Linked DNA regions of Homo sapiens. The protein of the gene in region 1 interacts with the protein of each later gene in a pairwise test. Each region holds a gene or a part of one and is shown on either strand. Other genes may lie near its edges. The genes, in order: UBL7 and AP1G1.

The links.
Region 2: the proteins of UBL7 (region 1) and AP1G1 interact in binary tests that used the Homo sapiens proteins (3 or more experiments, as listed by UniProt).

Annotation. Positions count from the first base shown.
Region 1 is NC_000015.10:74,447,441-74,463,556, forward strand, and holds the start of UBL7 (ubiquitin-like protein 7), read right to left. Parts: upstream 13,721-16,116; 5' UTR 13,597-13,720; exon of another isoform or gene 13,319-13,596; coding exon of another isoform or gene 13,228-13,318; intron 11,664-13,227; exon of another isoform or gene 11,579-11,663; intron 11,457-11,578; coding exon of another isoform or gene 11,428-11,456; coding exon 11,244-11,427; intron 9,232-11,243; coding exon 9,112-9,231; intron 4,939-9,111; coding exon 4,856-4,938; intron 4,081-4,855; coding exon 3,996-4,080; intron 3,420-3,995; coding exon 3,362-3,419; intron 2,630-3,361; coding exon 2,496-2,629; intron 2,236-2,495; coding exon 2,186-2,235; intron 1,914-2,185; coding exon 1,746-1,913; intron 1,161-1,745; coding exon 1,038-1,160; intron 1-1,037.
Region 2 is NC_000016.10:71,735,043-71,751,158, forward strand, and holds part of AP1G1 (AP-1 complex subunit gamma-1), read right to left. Parts: intron 15,291-16,116; coding exon 15,168-15,290; intron 14,942-15,167; coding exon 14,852-14,941; intron 13,337-14,851; coding exon 13,209-13,336; intron 11,651-13,208; coding exon 11,546-11,650; intron 10,573-11,545; coding exon 10,431-10,572; intron 10,229-10,430; coding exon 10,102-10,228; intron 4,300-10,101; coding exon 4,192-4,299; intron 4,061-4,191; coding exon 3,900-4,060; intron 1-3,899. UniProt on the Homo sapiens protein: Subunit of clathrin-associated adaptor protein complex 1 that plays a role in protein sorting in the late-Golgi/trans-Golgi network (TGN) and/or endosomes.

The DNA.
Region 1 (16,116 bases):
ACCTGTAATCCCAGAACTCTGGGAGGCTAAGGTGGGTGAATCGCTTGAGCCCAAGAGTTCAAGACCAGGCTGGGCAACATAGGGAGACCCCCCCATCTCTACAAAAAATACAAAAAATTAGCCAGGCATGGTGGTGCATACCTGTAGTCCCAGCTACCCGGGAGGCTGAGGTGGGAGGATCACCTGAGCCCAGGAAGTTGAGGCTACAGTAAGTTGTGATCACACCACTGTACTCCAGCCTGGGTGACAGAGTGACACCCTGTCTCAATCAATCAATCAATCAATCAATGCCTCCCAGGGATCCCTGGTGACTGCTACATCAAGTCATCAAGTCTAATCTCCGCAGGTTGGCATGCAAGCCCCTCTCGTAGGCTCCTGCTCTTTCTCTGGCCCCATCTGCGGATCTTCTACACTGGACACTGCATCCTAGCCTTGTAGTTTTGAGTATGTCACATATACCTCCACACATGTGCACAAACAGGTAGCTGTCTTCACCTGGAAATCAGCCCCTTCCTACCTCAAACCCCCTTCCCTGGCTAGCTAACTTCTAACTAATTCTTCTGACAATCAGCTTAAATACCCCTCTCTCAGAAAAGTTTTGTCTGACCTAGGCCCTTACTTCAAGCAGCTGGGTTTCTTGCCTTGTTGCTCCCCAGCTCAGTGCCTGCCTGGTGCCCCTCCATGGCAGGGATGAGAACCAGCTTGCCACTAGCCCAGCATCTGGACTCAGGCCTAGTATACACATGCTCAGTCAATGATCACTGAATGAATGAATGAAATGGCCATGATTATCTAAGCCAGGTGGTCTAGGGAGTCAGGCCATGGTCACTAGGGGCAGGAGAAGCCTAGTGACCACTGTGTATGGTCTGAGAGTGTGCCCTTGCTAGGAACACTCTGCACCTGTCCCACTGCCATGCTCCAGCTGTTCCTAGAATGAAGCATGCCAGGTGTGAAGGACCGCCAGAGAGCAAAACAAAGGCTGGGCATCCAAAATAACAAGGAAGCCACATGGAAACCAAGACGTGGGGAAGACTGACCTGAAGGCTGGGCTGCCCAGAGGCCTGAAGGGCATGCTGTAGGGCTTGGCTGAAGAGATCATTGGTGATGGGCGTCCCTGACTGGACACCAGAGGACATTGGTGAGGTCCCTGAGGAATGACCCTAGAGACAAATTAGTGGTCAGTGCCACCCTCAGCGCCATCTCAATCTTATAGCAGATGCTCGCTGTTGTCATATCACCTCACAGCACTCCTGAGGTACCCAACTTCTGCCTCCCAACAAAGACCTGCCATAAGACAACCAAACAAAGGTAACTAGAAGCTCTCTATGTGGGCAGGAAAGGTTCCATTCTCTTCTGCACTGAGCCCCTTGTCCCAGCCTAGGACCCCAGCACTGCAGCACTGGGAGAGATGGCCTTGAAAGCTGAAGTGACTTGTCACCCAGAAATGCTTAAGCTGGTGATGTCTGCTCCCTGTCAGGGATGAGGAAGGGCATATTGTGTGCAGGAAGAGTCTTCTGAACTAATAGGGGGGACTACACGGGACCATGTTAAAATCTAGACTTCTGAGTCCTCAAGGCAAGTGAAGGGGAGGTCACTCAAGCTGCAGTAAGAAATCCCCACCAGGACTCCAGGGTTCAGCTTAAACTAGATCTAGCACCAGGGTCAGCAAAGGCAAATCTACTCTACTGCTGGGGAGCTTGTTCCTTGGGGGCCCAGCCTTGATCTTCCCGGCCCCGTCTTCATACCTGGGTGCCAGGAGTCGGTGTGTGAGAGCTGCTCTCCGGAGTGCTGGCCAGGGCCAAGGCGGTGGCCAGCTCACTCTGGGTGATGGGCCGGGGCCCAGCAGCTCCACTGTACCCCAGGGAGGCTGGGCGGGAGCTGGGAGTACTGCTAGAGGGTGTGGACCTGGTGTTCTGGAGAAAGAAGACACTCAGAATCAGGGAAGCAGTACTGTGAAACTCCCAGATGAACTCCACCCACCTCCAGCAATAGTTCTTGGGGAAACTCTTAAGTTCCCAGGTTCAGAAAGGAATCCAAAAGCAGAAATAGTATGACATGGTCTTGGCCCCCCAATGGCGTATGTCCATCTCCCAGCCTTGGGAGTGCCAGGTCCCAGGATGCAGCTCATTCCCAGCACCATCTCCCCCACATGTCAGCATGTCAGGCAGGCAGGCAGGCCACTTACTGGGTGAAAGTCATCCTCATCATCTGAGAGCCCTTCAAACAGGAAGCCACCTGGAGGAGGACGAACAGATTTCAGGAGGAAGAACAGAAAGGCACAGGCGCAGCTCCAGAATCTCAGCTCAAGTTACTCTCCAAATTCATATTTTCATCTCTCCCCTCGGAAAATTACAGGACAGATGCACTTCCTGACTCAAACCGAGAGTTCCCAAGGAACGCCCTCTGCCAACGCTATACATAGCTGCTGAGTAAAGCAAATTCCTGGGCCACTGCCGGCTCCTGAGGGGCCCACATTACACTTTTCAGGCGCTCACCTGGCATATCCCGGTATGAGCTGGAGGGCATGCTCCGGGAAGAGGAGTCAGTCCCAGGCATTGGGGCACTGCCTGCTACGGAGTGCAGAACCAGGACAATGGCATTGACGAGGGCTGGGTGAGCAGGCACCAACCTAGGATAGAAGCAGGAAGAAACCCAAGGGTGACTCCAAAAGAGCACCCTCAGCCATAACAGGAGTTCTGGGTGCCCCCTCACAACAATGCAGCCACCTGTGCCTGCTCTCAAATTCCTCAGTCTTTAGCATCTTCCACCAGGAAGCTTTATCCTCCTGCTGATCTGCCCCCAGCAACGGGTGCAAGGCCTTCAAATTCCTGGGGTCCGCTGCAGATTCTTCACCCTCTCCACAGGCAAGGCATGATGGGAAAGGTGCAGCCTGGGAGGCTCAGGGTTCTGGCCTGAGCACATGAGGAGTGTCTGGTCTAGGCACCACTACTACATCAGGCAACCCTGGACTGGTCCCTTCTCTTCCCAGGGTGGGGCTGTTTTCTTCACTTGCAAAATGAGGACATGTCCCTTTTAGCTTTGACACTTTACGGATCTGTACACCTGCTTCTCCTTTTGCCAGCTTAAAATCCTTGAAAAGCTCCCTAATTTCTACCACACGAAACCTAAACTGAGCCTGGCAGACAAGACCCTTTCCCTCAGAATCCTGCTTCCTCCCAGCACTCTTGACAAAAGCCCTGCTCTTGGGCTTTGCTCTTTCTCACCCCCTGACGTATCTAAGGGGTAGACTTGGTGACAGACTATGGATGGGCTCCCAGAGCAGACTGCAGGGTGACAATTAGGCTTCTGGCCTGAGCACGAGGAGAGAGAAGGTACCCTCTAATAGGACAGGTACACTTACGTATCAAGCATATTGGGATCAGCGAAGACAGAGAAGAGGTCCTTGTCCTGGAGAACCCCTGAAAAAGAGCAGAGCTCACCTCAAAGAAAGGAAATCAGCCAGATCCAGGAGGGAGAAGAGGCTTTGCGTCTCAGAGCAACCAGCTCAACAGGGACACAGGACAACAAGCCAATCTTCATGAGAAGTAGAGGAAGCAAAGCGCCAAGCAATACAATTCAGGTACTCCTCATCTTGGTCTAGTGAGGATGGTCCCCTGCTCTCCACCTCCCCTGCACTTTAGTCACATCACAGACTGGGTACCAAGACACCTGTCTCTTTCTCCCGTATCTCTGGGTTCTTCCCTTACTCAGGGTGTGCAGGACGCCTTCCCTGATTGCTGTGATGTGGGCTAACTGCTATCCTCATTTGGCATCCTCATACCCTTATTTACGATGTTAGTTAGGCCATTATCTCTCTGTGGGACTGAGAGCTCTTAAAGGGCTGGGGATATCAAACACACCTTGATTACTCTCCCTCTTCCCACAAGACCAGTCATTCTTCAAAAGATAGTCCAAGTCTCTTTAGAGGAATTGTCTTCTCCTGTTTTCTCCTTTTCCGACAACTCCTATTTCCTCAAATTCAGTCCTGCACTTACCAAGAGCAATAGGGTCACTGCTGAGGCCTGGGGTGGCCACAATGATCTGATCCAGAGACTCCTTATTGCTGAGCATCTTAAAGACCTGCAGGAGAAATGGCGGGGGCTGAGCACTCCAACCAGCTCAATGTACTCATCAAATGCCCACACTCTGCCAAAGGACTTCCTCCCTCTAAGTGCTTGCATGTACATCACCACAATGGAACAATAGCCCCAGAAACAGATGAACCTCTTTTTGCTCTAAGATCTTAGCTTACTGGAGGGGAAACAAACAATTTAAAAAAAAAAAAGGCAAGACCACAGTAAACCTTCAAATCTCTGTGCTCCTTTTCCCCACCTACAGTTTAGTGCTTCCAAAATAAAAGCTCTCATTACAAGCCCGGTAACAAAGGTTTCTCTAGGTTCCAATCCAAAAGTCCTTTTCAATCTCTGTACAATTACTATTTCATATTTGTATATATCGCTAAGTTCACAGCTATACTAATTTTGCCTCTCAACTCTCCTACAGAAAGACATCAGCCCACTTCCCCAGTGAGGACATCTAGGTCAAGGGGCAGTAAGCAGGCAGTTCAGCCAAAGTCGAAGAATGAGGCCCAGCAGAAACAGTATGAGGATCTTTTGGCTGTCACCATACGGGCAGGTTGTATTATTATCATTAGAGGGAATCAACAACGCCTGACTGAGACAGGCTCTTTGGGGAAAGACAGGGCTCTACTGAGGCCCACAGACATGGCAAAAACTCCCCAAGGAACTCTTGGTTGCCATGGCAACGGGCTTCCAGCTCCCACTCCACACCACTCGCCAGCCAGCGTTCACACCCTCTCCTACAGTCCTGGCTGGGGGCCGCAGCACACACTCACCGCCTCCCTGTAAGAGGAGCTGCTGTGCAGGGCAGTGTGCAACACCCGGAACTCTCTCATGGCAGCCACTTTGTCCACAGGTTCTGGGGGACAAGACATTCAGAGTTACCCTATAGCGCAGGTCCTGTCTCTGCCACAGACATGGCAACATCATTTCAGCATGTGCCAAGGAGCAGCCTGGTCTGTGCATTCCCTTCCCTCATCACCCCTTAAGAATGTGAGTGCCTGCTCAGAAAAACCCATTTGTGCCATGGATGTGAAAACTGCTAGTAAGCATCTTTACATTCACTTGTAAGCATCTTGCACAGATAAACAAACAAATTCAAGTTGCAGCAGAGGAGACTCTTACCACATGAAAAACGGTGCTCTGATCAACATACCACTGCAGGAATTCTAGACTAATAACATTTGTTTTTTGGTGTTTTTGCCTTTGTTTTTCAGACAGTCTCACCTCTTGCCCAGCCAGAATGCAGTGGCGCAATCTCGGCTCGCTGCAACCTCCACCTCCCTGGTTGAAGCAACTCTCGTGCCTCAGCCTCCTGAGTAGCTGGGATTACAGGTGTGCAACACCACTCCTGGATAATTTTTGTATTTTTAGTTGAGATGGGGTTTCACCATATTGGTCAGGCTGGTCTCAAACTCCTGACCTCAAGTGATCCACACACCTCGGCCTCCCAAAGTGCTAGGATTACAGGCGTGAGCCACCGTGCCCAGCCCTGGGTCACACTTTTTAAAGTATGGTTATCCTCACGAAGGACCACTACTTGTGACTGTACTGACTGTGTACTGCCCAACTCCAGGGCACCACTCCCAAAGCAAGGTGAATAGCACCCCTGGGGTTCAGGGTGGCAGCCACATCCTTATCGACAGTCCTGATCATGAGGCTGTCTTTTGAAAAACAGTCATCTTAAGTAAATTACCTAATTTATTCATTCAACAAACATGTACTAAGCATTTACTCCATGCCTGGCTTTAGGCAAGGAACTAGAATATGAAAAATAAGAACCCCTGCCATCAAGGAACTCTTAGGGCAGGAGGAGAAATGAGACTACATCAAATACACAATTACAAAATGCCACGTTGAAGACCTCAACAGAGACGTGGATCCCAGCTAGGGTACCAGGAACACAAAGGCAGACAGGCACCACTGAGAGGGAGGGTGAAGATAGACAGCTGCCTCCCAGAGGAGACCATTTGAAATGGGTATCAAAGAGAGAGCTGATATTTACTGGGGGGGTGAAGGTATTCCAAGCCTGAATGAGAACATGTGCAAAGGCATGGGAGAATAAAAGAATGTGGTGCTTTGAACAAACAGCAAGTCATTCTTTGTGGCTGGAGCTTGGGGTACACATTCCAGCTCAAACAGCAGGTTAAGGTGACGTCCTGAAGGGATTTGTAACCCGCCATGGAGGACTACCAAAGAGATCCAGGTGGGAAGACAGACAACAATGGGTTCTTCTCCTATAGGCCCTAATCTGTGGGAGAACACAAAATGTGATTCCTTTGTGAAGAAAAGCACTCAAGGAGCAAATATCTAAAACACTGTCACAAAACAGTTTCTTTACAGATCTAAAAGTTTATTGTAACCTTCCAATAAAAAGGTCATTTGTTTCAAAAATAATCCTCCAGGTAGAAGGTGGGAGGAAAAGGACTCTTAATATCTTAAGCCATTATTCAGCTAAGAGCCATGGCTGTCACTGTAAGATCTCTGAGCTAAATTCATCCTTTAGAAGTGGAACGCAGCCAGCCCAGTGGAAATGGTTTTCCTCTTGAGCCAGGAAAACCCCTGGTCCATATCCCAGCTCTTGCATTCACTTTCTAAGTAGCTGACCTTGAATAAATGCCCTAACCCTTTTCTTCCTCCATAAGATGCTAATGCTGTTACCTACCCTGCAGGGCCACTGTAATGATTAAATGAGGTATAAAAGGGAAAAAACCTGGCTCACAGAAGCCACAAATGTTATTTTCCTTCTGTTAATGCCCTCCAGCCAAAGAGCTGAGGGGCATATCTGTATTTAAACAAGTTGGGTTTACTGCTCAGTACAGAGAGAAGAATGCACACCACAGGAAACCGTGGGCTGTCTCAGTAAGAGGATATTAGAAAGGACTTTTTTTTTTTTGAGACAGAGTTTCGCTCTTGTTGCCCAGGCTGGAATACAATGGCGTGATCTCGGCTCATTGCAACCTCTGCCTCTTGGGTTCAACCGATTCTCCTGCGTCAGCCTCTCAAGTAGCTGGGATTACAAGCAGGCACCACCATGCCTGGCTAATTTTGTATTTTTAGTATAGACGGGGTTTCTCCATGTTGGTCAGGCTTGTCTCGAACTCCCAATCTCAGGTGATCCGCCCACCTCGGCCTCCCAAAGTTCTGGGATTACAGGCGTAAGCTGCTGCACCCGGCCAGAAAGGACTTCTTACAGGATTTTGGTTTTGTCTGGCTGATTTGGGGAAAAATTTAAAGAAGTGAGGTTTTACTCTGGATAGGATGCTTTCAGGCAGTGGGAGTGATTTTATAATTGAGTATCTTAATAACTCTTACCTAGAAGGAAGGAAAACTAGAGCAAGGTGGAAGCTGTAATTGGCCAAGAAGCAGCTGTTACTCTCATCAGCCAAGATAGAAAGATACTTGGTCACCTTTGTGGTTTGGATAATGCTCATGTTTTTGTGTTTCTGTTCAGCAATAATAGGGATCTTGTTTTTGTCTTAATCCATAGTGGTCTCAGAGTGGCCTTGACTGCTACTGGGGATCTGTACAATTGTTCATGATCCCCAAAAGGATTCCAGGGCCTGGCTGTGAGTGCCAGGCCAACCTCTGGATGTCAGGAACTCTGTTCCTCTTTCTCACTTCCCATCAGGGTATGAAAGACATTTTTGTCTTTTACAGTTAGAACTGAAAGGGGGGTAAATTTCAAACTGATAACTAGTCACAGCAATCATGAACATTATAAAAAGATGTCAACCTGCCAGTGTAACAAAGCTAATCTCTTTTACACAGCTTAGCTTTATTCTTAGGGAGGCTTTTAAAACACACATGCAAAATTTAAATCATGAATTCCAAGCACCTTCTATTTATAAACCAAAAAGGCATCTGAGGCTTTGTATATTTTCTCCAAGAGCTATTTAAATACTCTTTGAATATCTTCAGGAAAATACCAGTATAGCAAGAGCAGTTAGCTAACTGAACAAATCACCACCTGAGGCAGTTTGTAGGAAGATTTGTTAACAAGGGAATAAACTGCAGCATTAGGAAAGTGCCAAAAGTTTCCAGCTTTTTTCTAATGAGAACAACGATAATAACAAAAGGATACAAAGTTTACTTTGTATCACTAAAAAATAAACTGTTAACTTAAAGGAGTTTAAGTAGACACAAACTCCCTGTCCCATTAGGAAACAGTGGATGACAAACTTAGAAAGTGGAGAAACAAGCCAGGAATGGTGCCTGTACTTTGGGAGGCTGAGGTGGGGTGGATGGCTTGAGGTCAGGAGTTCGAGACCAGGTTGACCAACATGGAGACACCCCGTCTCTACTAAAAATACAAAAATTGAAGGCCGGGTACAGTGGCTCACGCCTTTAATCCCAGCACTTTGGGAGGCCGAGGCGGGCAGATCACAAGGTCAGGAGATCGAGACCATCCTGGCTAACACGGTGAAACCCCGTCTCTACTAAAAAACACAAAAAAAATTAGCCAGGCTTGGTGGTGGGCGCCTGTAGTCCCAGCTACCTGGGAGGCTGAGGCAGGAGAATGGTGTGAACCCGGGAGGCGGAGCTTGCAGTGAGCCAAGATCACACCACTGCACTCCAGCCTGTGAGACAGAGTGAGACTCCGTCTCAGAAAAAAAAAAAAAAAAAAAATTAGCTGGGCATGGTGACTCATGCCTGTAATCCCAGCTACTCGGGAGGCTGAGGCATGAGAATCACTTGAACCTGGGAGGCGGAGGTTGCAGTGATCCAAGATCAAGATTGTGCCACTGCACTCCAGCCTGGGCAACAGAGTGAGACTGTCTCAAAAAAACCAAAAAACAAAAAACAAAATGGAGAAACAAATCTTCCATTAGTGATGCCGGCAGTAAGAAGGTCAAAATTGGACTCTGTTTATCAGCATGGTCTAATCCAATAAGTAATAAAGATATCATTTATCATCAGCTCAGTAAATCATCCCTTTGTTCCACCCAGGCTTGTGCCTCAAGAACACACAGATCCTTCCCTTGCGGATATTACAGAAACTCTGCCTGCCTAAGGGCTGCCCCTCACTCACCCGGTTTCTGATCAGGTTCAGGCCAGGACTTTCGCAGAACATGGACAGTGGACCCAGGTTGAATGCCATAGAAGTCAAGTGTCTGGTCATCTTTTAGCTTCCGACCACAGTAGATCAGATCTAAAAAAAGAACTGTCCACTTATATTTTGCTCCTCAAAACAAATTTACATGGTTTTTGTCCCGAGAACCTTATTTTGATTAGATAGCTGGAGAATGATACATGTTTTAAAAGATACTCTTATTCAATAACTTAACAAATACTTTTTTTTTTTTGGAAAACAGGGTCTTACTCTGTTGCCCAGGCTTGAGTGCAATGGCACCATCACGGTTCACTGCAGCCTCAACCTCCTGGGGTCAAGCAATTCTCCCACCTTAGCCTCCTGAGTAGCTGGGACTACAGGCACATGCCACCACACCCAGCTAATTTTTGTAGTTTTTTGTAGAGACGGGGTTTTGCCATGTTGCCTAGACTAGTCTCTTAACTCCTGGGCTCAAGGGATCCTCCTGCCTTAGCCTCACAAAGTGCTGGGATGACAGGCGTGAACCACCATGCCTAGCCAATTAAATACATTTCAACAACTATTTGCAAATATAAACTCATAAAATGGACTTACATCGAATCTGGCCAGATGTGGTGGCTCACACCTATAAACCCAGCACTTTTGGAGCCTGGCCGACATGGCGAAACCTGGGCCATGGCGAAAATTAGGGCCGGGCACGGTGGCTCACACCTGTAATCCCAACACTTTGGGAGGCCGAGGTGGGTGGATCACCTGAGGTCAGGAGTTCAAGGCCAGCCTGGCCAAGATGGTAAACCTCGTCTCTACCAAAAATACAAAAATTAGCCAGGCATGGTGGCAGACGCCTGTAATCCCTGCTACTCAGGAGGCTGAAGCAGGAGAATTGCTTGAACCCAGGAGGCGGAGGTTGCAGTGAGCCAAGATCACACCACTGCACTCCAGCCTGGGCAACAGAGCAAGACTCTGTCTCAAAAAAAAAGAAATATATATATATATACACACATACACACAAAAATTAGCCAGTTGTGGTTGTGCGGGCCTGTAATCCCAGTTATTCAGGAGGCTGAGGCAGGAAAATTGCCTGAACCTGGGAGACAGAGGTTACAATGAGCTGAGATCTCGCCACTGCACTCCAGCCTGGGCAACAGAGCAAGACTCCGTCTCAAAAAAAAAAAAAAAAAAAAAGGATTCACACAGAATCTATCCACAGAAAAACTCTGGAGTTTAACATTGTGGAGGCTGCCCAATTTAAATCAATGGAAAAACAACAAAATAGGATGAACCCAATCCAGGTATGACTGAAAACATCTTTCTTGCCAGTTGGATCCTTTAGCTATTAAAAATTACCTTTTCAGTGTAATTTAATTATATTTAAATTCCTCCCTCCTCCACCTGGACTGCCCACGCCACTTTTTCTTTTTTACTGCCTTTCCTTTACTCAGTCAACCAAGCAAAAATCCTTCTAATCATCCCTGAAGACCTACCTCAAATATACTGAGGAGCCTCCCCTGACCAACTTCTCCTTTCCTAACTCATCCCAAACTTCTGTTCTTTCAGAAAAAGAATTCACAATGTTGGCCAGGAGCGGTGGCTCATGCCTGTAATCCCAGCATTTTGGGAGGCTGAGGCGGGCAGAATCACAAGGTTAGGAGTTCAAGACCAGCCTGGCCAACATGGTGAAATCCCATGTCTCTACTAAAAATACAAAAATTAGCTGGGCATGGTGGTGTGTGCCTGTAATCCCAGCTACTCGGGAGGCTGAGGCAGAATTGCTTGAACTGGGACCCAGGAGACAGAGGTTGCAGTGAGCCGAGATCGCACCACTGCACTCCAGCCTGGGCTACACAGCAAAACAAAAACAAAAACAAAAAACAAGACAATGTCATAAAGAACCTGGTGATAAGGTAGTTCAGTATAATACATGGCTGAAATGGCAACCAATAGTTTCATTATATGATTTGTGTTTCTATTTACCCAACATTCACTTCCCTGGAGTGTTAACATTATGAGGCAACAAATCCCAAGCCCTTACTTTACTCTTGTAATTCCAGAAGTATCCTCCCCCAAAAGAGATCAGAGCAGCAGCCCAACCCCAGTCCAGAGAGACTCACCAATCAGCTCAGGGTCTGGAACAGACTCCTGGAGTTTGCCAGCAATAAGCTGCTTCAGAAATGAAATACTATAGCCCCCTAGCGAGTATTCTCCCAGTTCTGTCTCTGGCAACCGAAGAATAGACTTTGGAGTAAGTGGCTGGTCAGCCAGCTTCACCGCCAGGTGCCAGTCTGAGAGAGACATCCTCTCTCTTTCGCGCTCTCTCTTTCTCCCTGTAAAAGAACAAAACCTCAGTGGTTAAAAGACAGACCACCACTCTACTCCACCCCCACCCACCAAAGGGTTGAATGAAAGACAATTCAATGTGACACTGTTGAAGAGGCATAGGGCGTACCATCAGGAGGCCAGAACTAGAATCTGGGGTTCTCTCTCTACTCATACTGTGATGGACAGCTCTCTAGGCCTCAGTTTCTTCATCCCTAACGTGGACATAAAAACGCCATCCAATCTAATAGGAATGTTGTGAGAGAGATCATCTAACCCTCTCCCTTCTGTATGCCCCTTTTTCCAATTTTCTTCAACTGTTGCTTGAACCAGTAGAACAGCTTTATAACAAGTTCCCTGCCTCTTGCCTCTCCCTATCAAATATCTATGCTGCCACCTAACAACACCCATCATTTTTTTTTTTTTTTTTGAGACGGAGTCTCGCTCTGTTGCCCAGGCTGGAGTGCAGCGGCGCGATCTCGGCTCACTGCAAGCTCCACCTCCCAGGTTCACGCCATTCTCCTGCCTTCCTGCCTCAGCCTCCCAGGTAGCAGGGACTACAGGCACCCGCCACGACGCCAGGCTAATTTTTTTTTTTTTTTGTACTTTTAGTAGAGACGGGGTTTCACTGTGTTAGCCAGGATGGTCTCGATCTCCTGACCTCGTGATCCACCTGCCTCGGCCTCCCAAAGTGCTGGGATTACAGGCATGAGCGACTGCGCCTGGCCACAACCCATCATTCTAAAACACAGATCTGACCAAGTCACTTCTCTGCTTAGAACTCTTCCAATGTCGGGCTGGGCGCGGTGGCTCATGCCTGTAACCCTAGCACTTTGAGAGGCCTAGGCGGGCGGATTGCCTAAGCTCAAGAGTTCAAGACCAGCCTGGCCAACATGGTGAAACCCGTCACTACTAAAAATACAAAAATTAGCTGGGCGTGGTAGTGCGCACCTGTAGTGCCACCTACTCGGAAGGCTGAGGTTGCAGTGAGCCAAGATCACGTCACTGCACTCCAGCCTGGGTGACAGAGAGAGACTCTGTCGCAAAAAAAAAAAAAAAAAAAAAAAAAAAAGCCAGACGCGGTGGCTCACACCTGTAATCCTGTCACTTTGGGAGGCCGCGGAGGACGGATCACTTAAGATCAGGTGTTTGAAACCAGCCTGGCCAACATGGTGAAACTACATCTCTACTATAATAGAAAAAATTTGCAGGGCGTGGTGGCAGGCGCTTGTAATCCCAGCTACTTGAGAGGCTGAGGCAGGAGAATTGCTTGAACCCGGGAGGTGGAGGTTGCAGTGAGCCGAGATAGCGCCACTGCACTCCAGCTTGGGCGACAGAGACTCCGTCCCTCCCTGCCCCACCCCGGCCCCCCAGAAAAAGACCTCTTCCAATACCTCTAAACCATCTATATAAATTAAGTCTAAACTTCATCGCCTGGCTTACAAAACTCCCTGCCAGCCTCATTCCCCAACAGAGCCCTACCCCTGCAAAGGACCTCCACAACATGTAAGTACACACTCATAACAAAGCTCTCCCCTATTTTACACCTCTGCTCATCTAACTCTGCATGTAATTTCTCTTCCCTTTTTGGCCTTTTAGCAAACTCCTACCGAAACCAACACAGATTCAATAACCTCAGTCCCCTCTCTTTCCTCTGTTGTTCCCACATCCCCTCAGAACAAAAGGGCTACAAATATCTGCTTGCCCCCTCCTCCACCCCAATTCTTGAATGCCCTTGAAAACAAAAGACTAAAGTTTTCTTCATCCTTGTCCCCATACCTGGCATACATGGAACCCCAGAAAATAAATCAGAAACTCTGACGGCGGAAGAATCTTGCAAAGCAAGATAAGTTCTTGTTATAGTCATCATTATTGCTTCCAAAGAGACCTCTGATAGAGAAGAGGAAAGAAAAGGCTGTGAAGCTGCCTAGCAGACCTTCAAGCATCCTCAAGGTATCTTCCACCTCAAGTTTATGCCAGAAGGAGGTCGTTTTATATACCATGTCTCACTTAATCCTCACAACGGTTCCCTAAGGCAGGCATTAGCCACATTTTAAAGATGAGGGAAGCAAGACTCAGTAAAATCACTGGCCCAAGGTCACAGATCGCTAGTAATGGGGCAGGAACACTATCCGGTGGCGACCTCACCGCTCCAGTGGGACCAGCTACTTGGCTGACACACATCGAGCCCGCGCTGCCCAGGGCCCCAGCGCCCTCACCCGTCCCGCGGAAGGAACCCGGCCGCACTGCCGCCGGTGTAAACACTCACTCTGGCCCTCTCGCCGGAAACCGGAAATTCCGCGCTGCATTCTGGGAGTTGCAGTTCCCGCTGTGGCCCCCCGCCCCCTTATAAACAGCCAGTCTACAAGAGGCGCTAGTTGCAAAGCTTCCGGTTCTGGGGGAAGGCGTGGCTTCCGCGCTCTTTGAAATGTCCGGCGCCGGAATGTCTGGGTGCTTTGGTTGGAGAGGGTCCCATTTCCAGTCATTCTTCAGCCTGGTGATTCCCGCGCTCCCCTGAGGAGCATATGAAGTACGTCGGTTCTGCCAGGTTGGAACGCGCTGCTGGACACTCGGCCGTAAGGCGGATCCCGGATCCCCTCCCACTCCGACCCTTCCCTCCAGAAGGGCCGGTTCCCAAACGGCCCCTTTAGACACATCCAAGCGGTTGCCGACGGCCCTCACGATGAAAACTGCTGTCCGTTGGTGAAGGCAGCCTCTTCTGTGCTCCTCGCCGCTGACTTCCTGAGGCGGACCTACCTGTGGAGGCATACCAGGAACCAGACGATGACCCCCTCCAAAAGTTGGGTCTTTGAGGAGAGCTACTAACTTGGGTTCCTGGTACACCCTCTACATGCAGTGGTGAAGCTTATCTAACAGTCATTCATAGAATCAGTTTGGGAAGGGGAATTTTCACTGAACTCTCATAGAGAAACTGTGTTTTAGATAACAGAAAGTTCTGCACGGTTAAAATGGAACAGAAATTTTTTTGCACAGAAATTAGGATTACCGAAAATACTGAAGAAAGACTACCTCTGATTGGACTCTTCTCAAGGAATTAATAATTCAAGAACTAAGGAAAGAAAAAAGTGATTATATGAAAATACTGAAGTTGATCGTAGCAGCTGAAGGCTGATCCTGTGTGGGTAAATGTAAACGCTGAATTCCCACATTCCAATGTGCGACCTGGGATTAAGGCAGCAATTGAGCAGGGTAATGTTACTGAGGAGAGCGAACAGATCGCAGGATCTCAGAAGGCCTAACATTAAAGGCAGATCACCCCTCTGTTCTCATAAGTTATATGGGGAGTTTTGAAATGGCTTTCACTGTCTTCAGGGAGTTTATCTTCAGGATAACTCCCATGTATGTTGTGGGCGCATTAGGAACCCATGGCTGTTCCCAAAGTCTCCCTTTCCCATCCTACCCATTTTTAGATATACCCCCTCTTTCAGTAATCCTTCCTAACTAGACTTCTTTAGACTCCTTCCTCTCCTGCCTACTAAGTTACTTGCACCTGAGCTCCATAATTTATCAAAATTATATATTGTGAATACTTTCCCAGTTCATGATTTTTTTTTTACTCTTAATGGTATTAGATAATTTAATTTCATTTTAAAACTTTTTTTTTTTTTTGAGACGGAGTCTTGCTCTGTCGCCCAGATTGGAGTGCAGTAGTGGCCGATCTCGGCTCACTGCACCCTCCGCCTCCCGGGTTCAAGAGATTCTCATGCCTCAGCCTCTTGAGGAGCTGGGGCTACAGGTACCTGCCACCACGCCCGGCTAATTTTTGTATTTTTAGTAGAGACGGGGTTTCACCACGTTGGCCAGGCTGCTCGAACTCCTGACCTCAGGTGATCCCAAAGTGCTGGGATTACAAGCGGTAGCCACCACGCCCGGCCTGAAATTTTGTTGTGATGGTTAGTGCCTTTTGTGTCCTATGTAAGAAATCTTTGCCTGCCCTCGTTATGAAGATACTATCCTAGGTTTTCTTCTGTGTTATTTTATCTTTCACATTTAGGTCTATGATTAATTTCACATTAATCTTTGTATATGATAGGAGTTAGACATCAAGATTCATCTCTTCCATATGGGTGTACAATTGATCCAGCACTATTTAAAAATTTTGTTCCCACTGAATTTCAGTGGCAGCTTTGTCATAAATCCGGTGACTATGTATGTCTGGGTCAATTTTTGACTCTTATTCTGTGCCATGGGTGTATTTTTCTGTCATTGTGCCAATGTCACACGTCTTGATTTCTCTAACTTTAGAGTAGGTCTTGATATCTGCTAGCCTTTTGGCTTTAAGAGGGGCATGGCTATTCTATCACCAATAGATGACAATTGTTAACTTTGTTTTATGCTTCTAAAAGTATAATTTTACTGAATCTTAAATATGTATATTCAACAAAATTTAGATTACACTGTACATTTGTTTAGTAATCTACATATTTTACCTAGCTTGAATATTTCCCCTGTGCTCAAATATTCTTGAGACTTTTTACTTTGAAATAATTTCAAGTTTACAGTACAGTTGCAAAAATATTACAAAATAATGCCCTCATACCCTTAACCCAAAGTCCCCAGTTGTTAATAGTTTACATTTACCTCATCATTCTTTCTCTCTCACTCTCTCACTATGCATATTGTTCTTTTGTTTTTCCACCCGATCCG
Region 2 (16,116 bases), on another chromosome or scaffold:
TGCAAGTAAAATATCGGTGCTTTTGGCTTAAAAAACAGCCAGAAAGAAATGAAAAGAAAAGCTTCCCAAAAATAGCAAACCAACATACTGGTCACCAACTATAAGCTTTTAGGCTTTTGTGTGATTGGATAACTGGGATGCAGAGACTTGAACTTTTGTTTTTTAAAGCCTGCATAATCTATAATGTGTCAGAGCCTCCTCTCCACATGACAGAAGGAACGGAAAGACTTGCAGAACCAGCCTATACAGCAAAAGACCTAGATAAGCCAAACAGTATTAATTTGTTGAATGCTGGTGGGGTTTATTTGCTTGCTTATAGAAATAAGAGTTGAAAGTGCTGGCTGGGTGTGGTGGCTCAAGCCTGTAATCCCAGCACTTTGGGAGGTCAAGGCGAGCGGATCACGAGGTCAGGAGTTCGAGACCAGCCTGGCCAACACAGTGAAACCCCGTCTCTACTAAAAATACAAAAATTAGCTGGGCATGGTGGCACATGCCTGTAGTCCCAGCTACTCGGGAGGCTGAGGCAGGAGAATCGCTTGAACCCAGGAGGTTGTGGTGAGCCGAGACTGTGCCACTGCACTCCAGCCTGGGCAACAGAGCAAGACTCCGTCTCAAAAAAAAAAAAAAAGTGCTATATAGGGCAAGCTAGGTAAACCATACTGTACTACGTAGCTATTGTATGAACTAGCATTTGAAAATCTTTCCTAAAAGTAGATTAAACTTCTAAAATATTTGAGAGAGAGAGACACTAGTCTTCTCTAGGGCCAAAAGTTGCAAGAGTGAAGATTCACTCTCAATGTACAGATATATTACACTGGGGGCTGGGCACGGTATTCCCAGCACTTTGGGAGGCCAAGGCGGGCAGATCACCTGAGGTCAGGAGATCTAGATTAGTCTGGTCAACATGGCAAAACCCCATCTCTACTAAAAATACAAAAATTAGCTGGGTATGGTGGCGCATGCCTGTAATCCCAGCTACTCAGGAGGCTGAGGCAAGAGATTTGCTTGAACCCAGGAGGCAGAGGTTGCCTGGGTGACAGAGTGAGACTCCATCTCAAAAAAAAAAAAAAAAAAAATATATATATATATATATATATATATATATGGTCTTATTCATAATTCTGCCACATTAAAATTATGTAAGCTAAAGTATTATTCATTACTACCATATTTCATTAAATGTAAGATACCAATCGTAATTCACACCATTATTTTATGTACCACTGAGATAGAAAACATGCTGCCCACTGAATTATGACAAGATACCAATTTTTAAATGTATCCTAATTTTAGAAACATTAAAACACGAAATTAGTACATAGTAGAACCTATAAAATATGACTTTTTTTTTTTTTTTAGATGGAGTCTCGCTCTGTCGCCCAGGCTGGAGTGCAGTGGTGCGATCTCGGCTCACTGCAAGCTCCATCTCCCAGGTTCATGCCATTCTCCTGCCTCAGCCTCCTGAGTAGCTGGGACTACAGGCGCCCGCCACCACGCCCGGCTAATTTATTATTTATTTATTTATTTATTTATTTATTTATTTATTTATTTATTTATTTTTTGAGACGAGTCTCGCTCTGTTGCCCAGGCTGGAGTCCAGTGGGGTGATCTCGGCTCACTGCAAGCTCCACCTCCCGGGCTCACGCCATTCTCCCGCCTCAGCCTCCCAAGTAGCTGACACTACAGGCGCCCGCCACCACGCCCGGCTAATTTTTTTTTTTTTTTTTTTTTTAGTAGAGACGGGGTTTCACCGTGTTAGCCAGGATGGTCTCAATCTCCTGACCTCGTGGGATCCGCCTGCCTCGGCCTCCCAAAGTGCTGGGATTACAGGCGTGAGCCACCGCGCCCAGCAAAATATGACATTTTAAGTTGAAAATACATTATCATGTTGCACTGTACAGTACACCACCAAAAATGTCATGTTTTAATAGCAGAAGTGATAAGTCACTAGAGCAGCAGCCTAAAGTAACAAGTATAAAACCTAAGTTGAAGAAACTAAATATACTGAGCACTGAACAGATGAAAAGTGCTTCAAACAGTGCCTGATTCAAAAAACTTATTTATTCCTTTAAGCAACCTTAGGAAGTGGCTATCATTATCACCACCCTCTTTGCAAATGAAGACACTGAGGCATAGAGGTTCAGTGACTTTCTTCATGTCATACAACTACTACTAAAATCCAAACAGAATGGCTCTAGAGTTCATTAGTGGTCTTTCACCAATTGACACTACTGCTCCCCTTTTTTTTCTTCTTTTTTTTGGACAGCGTCTCACTCTATCACCCAGGCTAAAGTGCAGTGGCATGATCTTGGCTAACTGCAACTTCCACCTCCTGGGTTCAAGTGAGTCTCCCACCTCAGCCTCCTGAGTAGCTGGGACCACAGGCACGCACCATTGCACCTGGCTAATTTTTTGTATTTTTGGTAAAGATGGTGTTTCACCATGTTGCTGAGGCTGGTCTCAAACTCCTGAGCTCAAGCGATCCACCCGCCTCAGCCTCCCAAATTGCTGGGATTACAGGCGTGAGATACCGTGTCCAGCTAACTGCTTCTTAAACATCTAAATTATTCTGGCTCCTACAAAGTGTAAGCAAAGAGGGTTGCATGAGAGTCAGAGGATGGGGAAAAAATAAAAAAAGACTGCAAAGTCAGCAGTACCCACAAACAAAGAAAACATCCTCAATTTCCAAGTCCAAGTGTGTTGTCGGAATGTCTAAATGCCATATTTCACATGCCACTGCCAAGATTAGGTTAGCTTAGTCTAAACCAGTGGTTGGCAAACTATGGCCCACTGGCCAAGAATCGCCCAACATCTGATTTTGCAAATAACATTTTATTGGAACAGAACTATGTTCATTCATTTACATGTCATCTACAGCTGTTTCTGTACTATAAGAGCAGAACTGAGTACCAATAAAGACCAGATAGCAGCCTAAAATACTTACTGTCTCATCTTTTTAAGAAAAACTACCCACTCCTCATTCTCAACTTTTCTTTATTTAGAACTCTTTGTTTGTTTGTTTTGAGATGGAGTCTCGCTCTGTCACCCAGGCTGGAGTGCAGTGGCATAATCTGAGCTCACTGCATCCTCAGCCTCCTGGGTTCAAGCAATTCTCCTGCCTCATCAGCCTCCCGAGTAACTGGGATTAGAGGAACCTGCCATCACGCCCGGCTAATTTTTTTTTTTTTTTGTACTTTTAGTAGAGACGGGAGTTTCACCATGTTGGCCAGGTTCTCGAACTCCTGATCTCAAGTGATCTGCCTGCCTCAGCCTCCCAAAGTACTGGGATTACAGCCGTGAGCCACTGCACCCGGCCTCAAGATTTTTCACTATTCATAAATGAACATAAATATCCTTAAACTAAAATTTGGTGTAAACCAAACCTTGATTCACAAAAACAGTTACTGTATCTATAATAAATTGGATGTTAACGAAGGAGGAATGTTTCTCTCATTTATGTATCAAGAGAGAAAAAATTTCAATTCTGATCTGGTTAACTAGAAGATAATACCAGATAGACAAAGTCTCTCATCTTACTTAACTTTAATCCTATGCCATATTTTATGTTTTTAGGTCTTTAACACTGTATTACTAAAGCCTAACCTATCCTCAATGCCCTGAGCATTAACTGATCACCTCGTAGAATTCTGCTCTCACTACTATTAGAATTGTTTTTCTTTATCCTACAATGCTAACCATCAGAATACTTGTAACCTAGTAAAAATTATTCACTAAAAATGATATGCTTCCATGAACCATAAGCTACATTATTGTTAGTTTGAATTAAGTCTACAAATTTAATCTGTAAACATTAAAACATATCCTTTACCAAACACATGAAAAAAAAAAGCCAGCCAATCTTTAATCAAAGGAAACATCTAAAGAAGACATTGTAGTACCTTTGGTACTGCAGCTTGGAAAACAAAGTCCGTCATATCTAGCTCTGTGCTGTTGGAGGCCTGTATCGTTATCACTGTTACACTGGGGTTGGTATTTGACCGTTCAAAGGTGAATTCTATCTTCAAGCCATTCTTACTGTATGCTGTGATGGAGGGGATGCCTGAGAAAGTACAGGAAGATAAGTCTTATTGTAGTCAGCCTAATGCTTGCAGAATTATTACTTCTTTTTCTTAATAACCACATCTCATTACTCAGTGCTCCATGTAATGATGGTAACAACAGTCATCGTACCTGCAGCAATATCATTGAAGAGAGGCTGTGATGAAAGCCCATCCAACAAGAAGGGGGGCTGGGATATCTGTGGGACTGAGGCAGGGGCAGGAGCAGCAGCTGGAGCACCTAAAGGAAATATTTTAATGGAAAGTTAACCTTAGGCAGCATGACAAAGCTTACCAAGAAATTATAGGGAAAATTATTTCGGTCTCAGGTTAAGGAAAGATTCCTTAAACAAGATGCAAAAAGCATAGACCACAAAGAGAAAGAACTAAAAACTCAAGTACTTTAAAACGAGCAACTTCTGTTTATTAAAAAATACTGTAAGAAAAAGTACAGTCTGAGCAACATGGCGAGACCCTGTCTCTACAAAAAAAAATACAAAAATTAGCCAGGCATGGTGGTGTGCGCCTGTAGTCCCAGCTACTTGGGAGACTGCAGTGGGAGGATCACTGGAGCCTGGAAAGTTGAGGCTACAGTGAGCTTGCACCACTGTACTCCAGCCTGGGGGACAGAGCGAGACTCTGTCGCAAAAAAAAAAAAAAAAGTAAAGAGAGAGAGCCCACAGACAGGAGAAAATGTTTGCTATACAGTAATGAATGGATAAGTATCCAAACGATAACTGTCTTCTATAAAACCAATAAGAAACAGATAACCCAATTTAAAAGTGTCAAGATATAAAAACACGCAAGTCACAAAAGAGGAAACCTGAATGAAAAGGGAATCTTACAAACAGATGCTCAATTTTACCAGTAATGATGGAAGTGGAATTTAAAATTATAGTGAGATACTACCTCATGTCTACCAGAATGGTGAAAATTTCGATGTCTGATAATTCCAGATGTTGGCAAGAAGATGGAACGATGGGAAATTTTAAGCTCTGCTATAGGAAGGTAAACTGGCACAACCAATCTAGAGAGTAATTTGGCAACAGTAGAGTTGAACATCAGTATATCCTTAAACTGAGGTTTCTCAACCTTGACAGTAATAGCTTTTAGGCTTCCTAATTCTTTGTTGTAGGGGGCTGCCTTGTTTATTGTAGGATATTAAGTAGCACCCCTGGGCTTTTATGCATTAGACGGTAGCATCCTCCCAGTTGTAACAACCAAAAATATCTTCAGACACTGCCAACCCCTGGAGGGCAAAATCTTCCCCAGTTGAGAACCGATTACCCCTTCTTAGGAATGCTTTTAATTAATCCTTGCATGTGTTCACTGGGAGATACATCCAAAAGCATTCATAGCAGGAACACTCCTAATGGTGAAATACTGGAAACAACCAAAATGTCTGTCATCTTGATAATGAATAAGTAAACTGATATATTGATATACTAAAATACTACACATGTACAACAGTAAAAAGTGAATTCACTAGAAATACACTTAACATGGATTATTCATAACTCATTCTCACAATTACAATGTTTAGCAAAAAAAGGTGCAAAAAAGAACACATTCAGTTGGATACCTTGTCTAAAAAGGTAAAAATTGGCAAAATAATACTACATACTATATCAAGAAATGCACAGGAATGGCAAACACCAATGTTAAACACTACTTTAGGATAGACAGTAGTTACGTCTGGAATCAAAAAGAAATGGGATGAGAGGGAAATACACAAAGAACATCAACCCTCTTAATATTTTATTTTACAAACTAGGTAGATCAAAACATTCATTAAATTTTGTAGATGTTAAATGCTGTATAATAAAATTTTCACACACACACACGCACCCTGTGAGGGGTGGTATAAAGTGGGGTGGGAAAAAGAAATAGATTACCATTCTTATTTAATCTTTCCAAATAAGAACAACTTGACAATCATACAATAGAAGATAATTCATAGAACATGAGGGATATCAAGATTCGAAGAAGAAGCATAAGGAAATTCAGTAAAATTAAGAGAATGTATTTAATATTTAAATAGATTTCAAACTACTTGTGAAATTAACTGAAAATATGCCATTTAAAAAAGAACTATCACAATGAAATAAAGGAAGGCTAGAATATCATCTTTTTTTAAGAAATTGACAGCAAGAATGAGGGGGAAAAAAGATACTAAAGAATACTAGAAAAGTAAATGACAGGCTGGGCGCGATGGCTCATGCCTGTAATCCCAGCACTTTGGGAGGTCGAGGCGGGTGGATCACCTGAGGTCAGGAGTTTGAGACCAGCCTGGCCAACACAGCGAAACCCTATCTCTACTAAAAATACAAAAATTAGCCGGGTGTGGTGGCACGCGCCTATAGTCCCAGCCACTCGGGAGGCTGAGGCAGGAGAATCGCTTGAATCTGGGAGGCAAAGGTTGCAGTGAGCCAAGATCACACCATTGCACTCCAGCCTGGGTGACAGAGCAAGACACCATCTCAAAAACAAAAACAAGTAAATGACATATTAAAAATTAGCAAAGAGAATAGAAATACGGATGGCTAAGCAAGCACGAGAAGCTAAAATAAATGCAAACACCATTTGTGCAGTCCAGCAGATTATCAATGAAGCAGACAAAGAAATATTCATACAGTTCTCCTAGTCTAAAAAATCAAATCGAGAAAATTTCCCCCAATTCCCATTTTCAAAACAATTTTAGAAATGTGTTCTCATGGAAAATCAGAGGCTACTCAAGATACAGGCAGCATATAGGTCCCCAACTCCCTCAAATTTTCACTTTTCTTTGTCCTGTAAAAGTATAGCAAGGTAGTTTAGGAGAAGAGCAGAAACTTACTGCTCCAAACCCTTTAAAAACACATGTTAAATCTATTCTGAATTTCTACTGACTTAAATTTCTATATAATGGGGTAAAACTGTAATGATAAATTAAGAAATCTAGAATTCAAAATTTTAAAACTTAATGTAAAAAGTGGAAAAACATCTTTAAAACACATTATGAATAAGGCAAGAAAACCCAGACTTTTTAACATTTTATCATTTTGCTTTAACATATAACACTAGGAAAACAAGACAGTAGGAACAAAAAGAAAAGACTCCACAATAAATGAGCTAAGGATACAGGAATGTTCAGAAAGGAACCTCATCTATAATACAAATATGTGAATAAATATTAAACATTCTCTGTGATCAAAAAATAATAGGGCCTCTCTCTGCTGACCAAGCCTGGCAGAGGGCTACAAAATTTAAAAAATAATAATAAAAATAAAATATAATAGGACCAAATTTTCACCCAATAGGGCTTTTTAAAATGATAATATACAATGCTTATGACTGTGCGGTTAAACATATAAATTGAGGAAAAGGTAAATAATATTTACCAAGTGCCTACTATGTATCATGCACTGAATAGGTCAATGGGCCTCACAAATATCTTATGGAGTAAGTATTAATCATCCTAATTTTAACCAGATTCAGAAAGACTAAGTCACTTAGTCTAACAAATTAATCTAAAATAAGAACAAATTGATGTAATATTTGTTGAGGCCGCTAGGTAAGAAAAATCTAGAAACAAAATACCCCATACTGGCTGGGTGCGGTGACTCATGCCTGTAATCCCAGCACTTTGGGAGGCCAAGGCGGGAGGATCATTTGAGGTCAGGAGTTCAAGACCAGCCTGGCCAACATGGTGAAACCCCATCTCTAATAAAAAAATACAAAAATTAGCTGGGCATGGTGGCACGTGCCTATAAATCCCAGCTACTCGGGAGGCTGAGGCAGGAGAATCACTTGAACCCGGGAGGCAGAGGTTGCAGTGAGCCGAGATCGTGCTGTTGCACTCCAGCCCGGGCAACAAAGCAAGATTCCGTTTCAAAAAAACCAAAAAAAAAAGCCAAACTACCCAATACTAACGAACTGAGTAAACAGAGCAAATTTGTTGATAAAGTATTAGTCACCTAAAATTATAATTATGAAGGCTATATATATTAACATGGAAATACTAACATATTAGGTGAAGTATATGCTATGGTTTAACTGTGGGGTTGTTTTTTCTTTGCCGGTTATCCAGTACAGCTTTGACATTTGAGGATTTGAAATTGACCATTTGTAAATGATTCATAAGTACATGACAAGTAACATTTTGAAATTTTGTTAAGACACAGACATAAATCCTATACTCTGTGACTCCACTGTATTAGGAAAAAAAAAAATCAGCCTGTGGGAATGAGCTTAGCTAACCATCCAACTTGTTATCCTATGTCTATTTTTTACTCAAGGTCATGTGTGCTTTAACTCTTCATTATCCTCTTAAAGAAGACAGCAAAACCCCGTCTCTACTAAAAATACAAAAAATTAGCCGGGCATGGTGGCATTCGCCTATAATCCCAGCTACTCAGGAGGCTGAGGCAGGAGGCTCACTTGAACGCAGGAGGCAGAGGTTGAAGTGAGCCGAGATAATCCCACTGCACTCCAGCCTGGCTGACAGAGTGAGACTCTGTCTCAAAAAAAAAAAAAAAAAGACACTTTAACCTTTCAGCTATACTTTACACTGAAATTTAGGATAGAAGTTGTAGGCCAGGCGTGGTGGCTCACACCTGTAATCCCAGCACTTTGGGAGGCTGAGGTGGGTGGATCACGAGGTCGGGACCAACCTGGCCTACATGGTGAAACCCTGTCTCTCCTAAAACTACAAAAATTAGCCAGGCGCAGTAGCAGGCGCCTGTAATCCCAGCTATTCAGGAGGCTGAGGCAGGAGACCTGCTTGAACCCAGGTTGCAGAGGCTGCAGTGAGCCGAGATCATGCTACTGCACTCCAGCCTGGGTGACAGAGTGAGACTCTGTCTCAAAAAAAAAAAAAAAAAGGCCAGGCGAAGTGGCTCACGCCTGTAATCCCAGCACTTTGGGAGGCCGAGGCAGGGGGATCATGAGGTCAGGAGTTCAGGACCAGCCTGACGAACATGGAGAAACCCCATCTCTACTAAAAATACGAAAATTAGCCAGGGCATGGTGGTGCGTGCCTGTGATCCCAGCTACTCAGGAGGCTGAGGCAGAAGAATCGCTTGAACCCGGGAGGCGGAGGTTGCAGTGAGTCGAGATCGTGCCACTGCACTCCAGCCTGTGCAACAGAGCAAGACTCCATCTCAAAATAAAAATAAAAGTTGTATTGGACTCGGGTTTATCATATTGCTGAACATGTCAATTACAAATGACTGGTATATATGAACAGAAGAAAAAATATTCCCAAATGAAAAGTTATGTTTGAATATTATGAGTGATTGCCCTTCAGTTGCTTTAATTACAGAAAGTGTGAAAGGGAAGAGGTAAGTAGCAGGTTAACATCTCTCCACAAATGGCCACAGCTACTGAAAACTAACCATTAGTGGGAAGGAACCAAGAAGAAGTCATGTCTTGGGACACTAAAAGCAAAGGTGATACGGGATATATTTTTTGAGCTTGAAAGAGAAAGTGTGTTTTTTTTTTTTTTTTTTTGGAGACAGAGTCTTGCTCTGTCACCCAGGCTGCAGTACACACTGGCGCGATCTCGGCTCACTGCAACCTCCGTCTCTCAGGTTCAAGCGATTCTCCTGCCTCAGCCTCCGGAGTAGCTGGGATTATAGGCATGCACCACTTCACCCGGCTAATTGTTGTATTTTTAGTAGAGATGGCGTTTCACCATGTTGGCCAGGCTGGTCTAGAACTCCTGACCTCAGGTGATCCACCTGCCTCTGCCTCCCAAAGTGCTGGGATTACAGGCATGAGCCACTGCGCCCAGCCAGGAAAAGTAGTTTCTATCTTAAAACACTATGAATAATTTATTCACCCAAAATTAGGAGTTTGCCTTTAAGAAATCCGTATAAATTATCTTTAGAGCATTATTAGTATACAACATATAACCCGGATATTGTGAAGATTTGACTCTTGCTTCTGATTTAGCCTCTCCCATCTTCAAATGATTCACGTGCTGGAAAGTCTGGGTTCAGTTTAGTTTTTCCCTGAGGCCTCTATCTTTTCCCAGGTATTAAATAGCTCCAGACTGCCTCACCTGTAAGGTTGATGTCTCCCAGCAAATCAAGAAGTTCTCCACCAGCAGAAGATGGTTTGCTTGTAGGCGCAGTTGGAATAACAGGTGTTATGTCATTTCCTCCCAACAAATCCAATAAATCATTGGCCTAAACAAGGTAACAACACCTCAATTCATTATTATTTGATTTGTCTAGTATACATCTAATGCAAAGCTCTTTCAATATGTAAAAATAAGGAAGGAAATCATCAACCAACCCAGGAACATTAAAGGGACTCAGCTAAGAGACAAGCTGTAAGGGACTATAAAATCGTAAGAAGCCCCAGATGAGCAAGTGAAAGGCTGGCTACCTGGCTGGTGGGCTGTGGCCCAGAGGGTGGCGGTTTGGTCTCTAGTGGAGCTGGTTCTGTCTCTCCATTTGTCTGCACAATCTCAGTAGGGCCATTTGTGGTCACTTTTTCCATGACAGGCATTCTCTCAAGTAGGGCAGACCTAGAAGAATCTGAAGTGGTTAAATTCTAGGCAGTTAACCTAGATTCCCTACCCAAAATAATCACCATTAACTATGTTGAGCCCAAGCATGGAGATCTATCTCCCCTCCCCATCCAACACACACACTAAAATAGAAGGTAGATTACAAGAATACATGACCTAAATTCCTGGCTGGATTAAGGGCAGACAAAAAAATCTTGAATAAACAGACTGCCCAGCTAAATCCCAAAGCATATATTTCAGTGGTAGAGAGACTGAGATGAAAGAAAGGTAAATCCATAGGTATTAACAGTCAAGAAGATACTGTATAATAGAAGAATAAAAGATGACCCAAACACTAGAATGTTAACAGTAAAAGAATTTGAATGAGATTATTTGTCTTGAAAAAATACAACTCCCACTTCTTTTTTTTTTGAGACAGAGTCTTGCTCTGTCGCCAGGCTGGAGTGCAGTGGCATGATCTTGGCTCACTGAAACATCCGCCTCCCAGGTTCAAATGATTCTCCTGCTTCAGCCTCTCGAGTAGCTGGGAATACAGGCATGCGCCACCATGCCCAACTAATTTTTTTGTATTTTTAGTAGAGACGGGGTTTCACCATGTTGGCCAGGATGGTCTCGATCTCTTGACCTCGTGATCTGCCCGCCTCGGCCTCCCAAAGTGCTGGGATTACAGGCGTGAGCCACCACGCCCGGCCTCCCACTTCTTAACTAAATAAAATAGAAAATAAAGCAAACTTTCCATATCAAAAAAAGTGTAAGTGTTGGAGGTGGAATGAAAGAGAGTTAATTTATTTCTTTAGAGACTAGGCAGAATAGAAGATGGACAAAACAGAAGCAGACAAGCAATTAGAACTAAATAGGGATACGAGGAACAATTAATAAAGCACAAGGAATGAATCTTCTTTATGGATTACCATGACAATTTAGTCAGGATGCTAAGAGATACACGCATTGCTTAGTTTCTTTCGCTCACCTCATGTGGTCATATTTCTTGAAAAGTGCATTATATTCTACTGCCCTCTGCTGGAGTTCCACATCAATGCTGCTTCCGTAGATGGAAACCACTTTCTTAATTCGGCTATAGATAAAATGACAAACGAAATAAAATACCCAAAAGAAAATTCACAAATAAGCAGAGATAATGTTTAATAAGCCAGAATTTTCTGGTTAAAATACTGAAATACTCATTTTTTCTTAATTTATATAGTTTTTCAAAAACAAAACACTTTACTTTCATCCATTTATCTGACATTCGCATTATACTATTCTCATTGTAACACTAGATTTTTGTCTGTTAAATATGCCATCCCCATTCAGCAACAATGATGGTGTGGAAAAAACACATATATATATGCCACTCCCTAAACTTTGCTAGACAAAAGTACCAACTATTACTTTGCCACAAAAGAAATTTGTACTGTTCATTCTCTTCTTTGATAATTTTTAAATAATTTTTAATCTATAAAAGGGTCAGAGCCTCAAAATGTTGACCCCAAATTCTTCCAGTTCAGAATTTTAAAAGTAATTCAATACCATTTTTTATAAGACTTCACATTTAAAAGTGAAGCAGAAAGACTACAAGAACTACGTTGGCCTTAAATATGCTTGGGTGGGAAAGTGACCTGAGAATCTACTTTATTCAAAAAAGCAAAGAGGAGAATTAAAAGATTTAATCACCAAAACATTCATGATTTTATTCCTATTAAGACTTGTCAAAATATAATAAACCAAAACCTTGGCCAGATTACAAGGTCAGGAGTTCGAGACCAGTCTGGCCAAAATGGTGAAACCCCATCTCCACCAAAAAATACAAAAATTAGCCAGGCATGGTGGTGTGCGCCTGTAATCCCAGCTACTCAGGAGGCTGAGGCAGGAGAATTGCTTGAACCCTGGAGATGGAGATTGCAGTGAGCCGAGATTGTATGCCACTGCACTCCAGCCTGGCAACAGAGCAAGATTCTGTCATAAAATAAAATGAAATATAAAATACAAATAAACCAAAACCTTTATATGGGGAAGTAGATTCTCAACTTAAAAAGAAAAAAAAAAGGTATTAGAAATCTCATTCTAAAAACGTAACTTTTAGGCCAGGTGGAGTGGGTCACATCTGTAATCCCTGCACTTTGGGAGGTCAGGGCAGGAGGATCACTTGAGCCCAGGAGTTTGAGACCAGCCTGGGCAAACAAACGAAACACTTTCTCTACAAAAAAATGTAAAAATTAGCCAGGCACGATGGTGTGCACTTATAGTCCCAGCTCCTCTGGAGGCTGAGACAGGAAGATCCCTTAAGCCCAGGAGTTCAAGGTTGCAGTAAAATATGATGGCGCCACTGCACCCCATCCTGGGTAAGAGAGCGAGACCCTGTCTCAACAAACAAACAAAACCCCCTAAACTTTTCTGCTTCAAAATAATCCACAAGGGAGTAAAAGAATGAGAGGGAACAAAGTGCTGATGAATAAAGATTAACCACAAATTGATCACTGTGACTGTGGAGAAATAAGTAATGGAAATTTGTGTTATTATTCTCTCTACTTTTGTCTATGCTTGAAATTTTCCATGATAACAAGTTTTTTGGGATTTTTTTTGTTTTTTAATTACAAAACAACCTGTTCACCCTATGTTTCTTCAATACTCACTTTACAGTACAAGTGAATCGAGTGGAAAGCTTCATAATGGCAGTGAGGGCATAACCTCGTGTCACAGAGGTGGACATATTAGAGATTAGGACACTTTCTAAAATATCCAACACTTCATCCTCTGTTACCTGAGGAGGAGGAGGAAAAAGAAGACGATGAAGAATGAGTAGCATGATTAAGCATCTAAATCTGATATCAAGTCAGGGGAAGCAGCCAGAAAGACAATCCTACCGTTACAAAAGCCTCTAACTCAACCTGTGCTTTGCCAGGGTAACTGTCCAAGCTGTTCTATCAACCAGAGTAGTTGGGGGTAAAAAAAAGTGCTCTGGTTCTATCAACCAGAGCAGGTGGGGGTAAAAAGAGTGAAAAATGACCACTGGGGCTGAGAGGCAATATTAGAGCTTCAAGTGGCAGAAACAGAAGAAGAAAAGAAAAACATACAGAGTTCAAGTGTTGTTGCCACAATTTTCCCTTTTAAAGCCAGTCCTTTAATGTGCAAATAAGAACATGGATACATGTCTCATTTCTTCTTGTTTACCAGCCAGAGGGTAAGAGAAACAGTAATTCAGTCCACTAGGACAGAGACTTGGGCCTAAAGTGGTTTTAAAATCTCACAATGGGGCCAGGCAAAGTGGCTCACACCTGTTTTGTTTTTTTTTTGTTTTTTTTGTTTTGAGACGGAGTCTGGCTCTGTCACCCAGGCTGGAATGCAGTGGCGCAATCTTGGCTCACTGCAAGCTCCACCTCCCGGGTTCACGCCATTCTCCTGCCTCAGCCTCCCGAGTAGCTGGGACTACAGGTGCCTGCCACCACGCCCGGCCAATTTTTTCTACTTTTTAGTAGAGATAGGGTTTCACTGTGTTAGCCAGGATGGTCTGGCTAACCACCCTGCAGGTGACCTCATGATCCACCCGCCTTGGCCTCCCAAAGTGCTGGGATTACAGGCATGAGCCACCACACTCAGCAATGCCTGTTAATCCCAACACTTTGAGAGGCCAAGGCAGGCAGATTGCTTGAGTCCAGAAGTTCAAGACCAGCCTGGGCAACACGGTGAAACCCTGTCTCTACAAAAAAAAAGTAGAATAAACTAGCCAGGGTGGTGCCTGCCTATAGTCCCAGCTACTCAGGAGGCTGAGGTGGGAAGATCGCTTGAAACCCAGGAGATCAAGGCTGCAGTGAATTGTGATCCCACCATGGCACTCCAGCTTGGGTGACAGAGTGAGACTCTATTAAAAAAAAAAAAACAAAAAACCTCACAATGGCTCAATAAGTTCCATCTCAAAAAATGGCAGGTTTTCCAATATAATTCGCGTTTGCTTCTTTAAAAAGTTGGGTATTTTTTAAATTTTTTTGAGACAGGGTCTCACTCCTGAGTAGCTGGGACTAGACACCATCATACCTGTCTAATATTTGTGTCTTTTGTAGAGACAGAGTTTCACCATGTTGCCCAGGCTGGTCTCAAACTCCTGGGCTCAAGCGATGCTCCCATCTCAGCCTCCCAAAGCGCTGGGATTATAGGCATGAGCCACCACGCCTGGCCTAAAAAGTTTTCAAGGAATCAACCTCAACTCCCCATTAAACACTACTCTCCTATAACCAAAACCACTATTTTCCCCCACTTAACCAAGAGTGACAAGGAGTACCTGAATAGGCTCTTCCTCTTCACACTGGCCAGATACAAGAAGATCACCATATTCACCTATACACCATGCAGCCACTTGTACCAAAGGTTGCTGTGAAAAGAAAAGTCAACGTTTCTCAAGAACTTCAATTTTTCCAAAGTTATTTAATGCAAATCATAGGTCATCTCATAATAAAGATCAAAACTGTGCATATCTAGAGTGTTAGAAATAAAGACATACCAAAGGGGAGAGAGGAGGGGGGAAAAAAAAGAAGAAAAACATACCAGAAAAATTGAGGGTAAAATTACCCCCTAAAATAGTTGAATGAAGTACTTACTTGAGAATAATCACCAAGAATTGCTTTGTACAGGCGCTGGACAGTATAGGCATGCATCTCCACACTATTAGTTATTAACTGGATTAAATTGGGGACTGCATCATCACGAACATAACTTCCTGCCTAAAAGGAAATGCAGACAATTACCCCTAGAAACACACAGAAATGATGATAACAAGTGTTAGCTATTATTATTACTGTGTGTTTTTTCCTTTCTTTTTTTGAGACAGAGTCTCGCTCTGTCACCCAGGCTGGAGTGCGATAGCGCGATCTTGGCTCACTGCAACCTCCACCTCCCAGGTTCAAGCGATTCTCATGCCTCAGCCTCCCAAGTAGCTGGGACTACAGGTACATGCCACCACACCTGGCTAATTTTTTCTATTTTTAGTAGAGATGGGGTTTCACCATGTTGGTCAGGGTGGTCTCGAACTCCTGACCTCAGATGATCCACCTGCCTCGGCCTCTCAAAGTGCTGGGATTACAGGCGTGTGCCACTGCGCCCAGCCATTACTATTGTTTTTAAAAGAAGAATACCAGAAAACACCCTCAAAGATAAATTTGGTTCCAATTCTCAGGTTCATAACAGCTCAAACTTCAAAGTCTTATTTAAATATGTTACATTTTTAAATTTTATTTTATTTTTAAAAATTTTCTCTTTGTCCAAAGGCCGGGTGTGGTGGCTCACGCCTGTAATCCCAGCACTTTGGGAGGCCAAGGCGGGTGGATCACAAGGTCAGGAGATCGAGACCATCCTGGCTAACACGATGAAACCCCGTCTCTACTAAAAATACAAAAAATTAGCCGGGCATGTGGTGGGTGCTTGTAGTCCCAGCTACTCAGGAGGCTGAGACAGCAGAATGGCGTGAACCCAGGAGGCCGAGCTTGCAGTGAGCCGAGTTTGCGCCACTGCACTCCAGCCTGAGCAACAGACTGAGACTCCGTCTCAAAA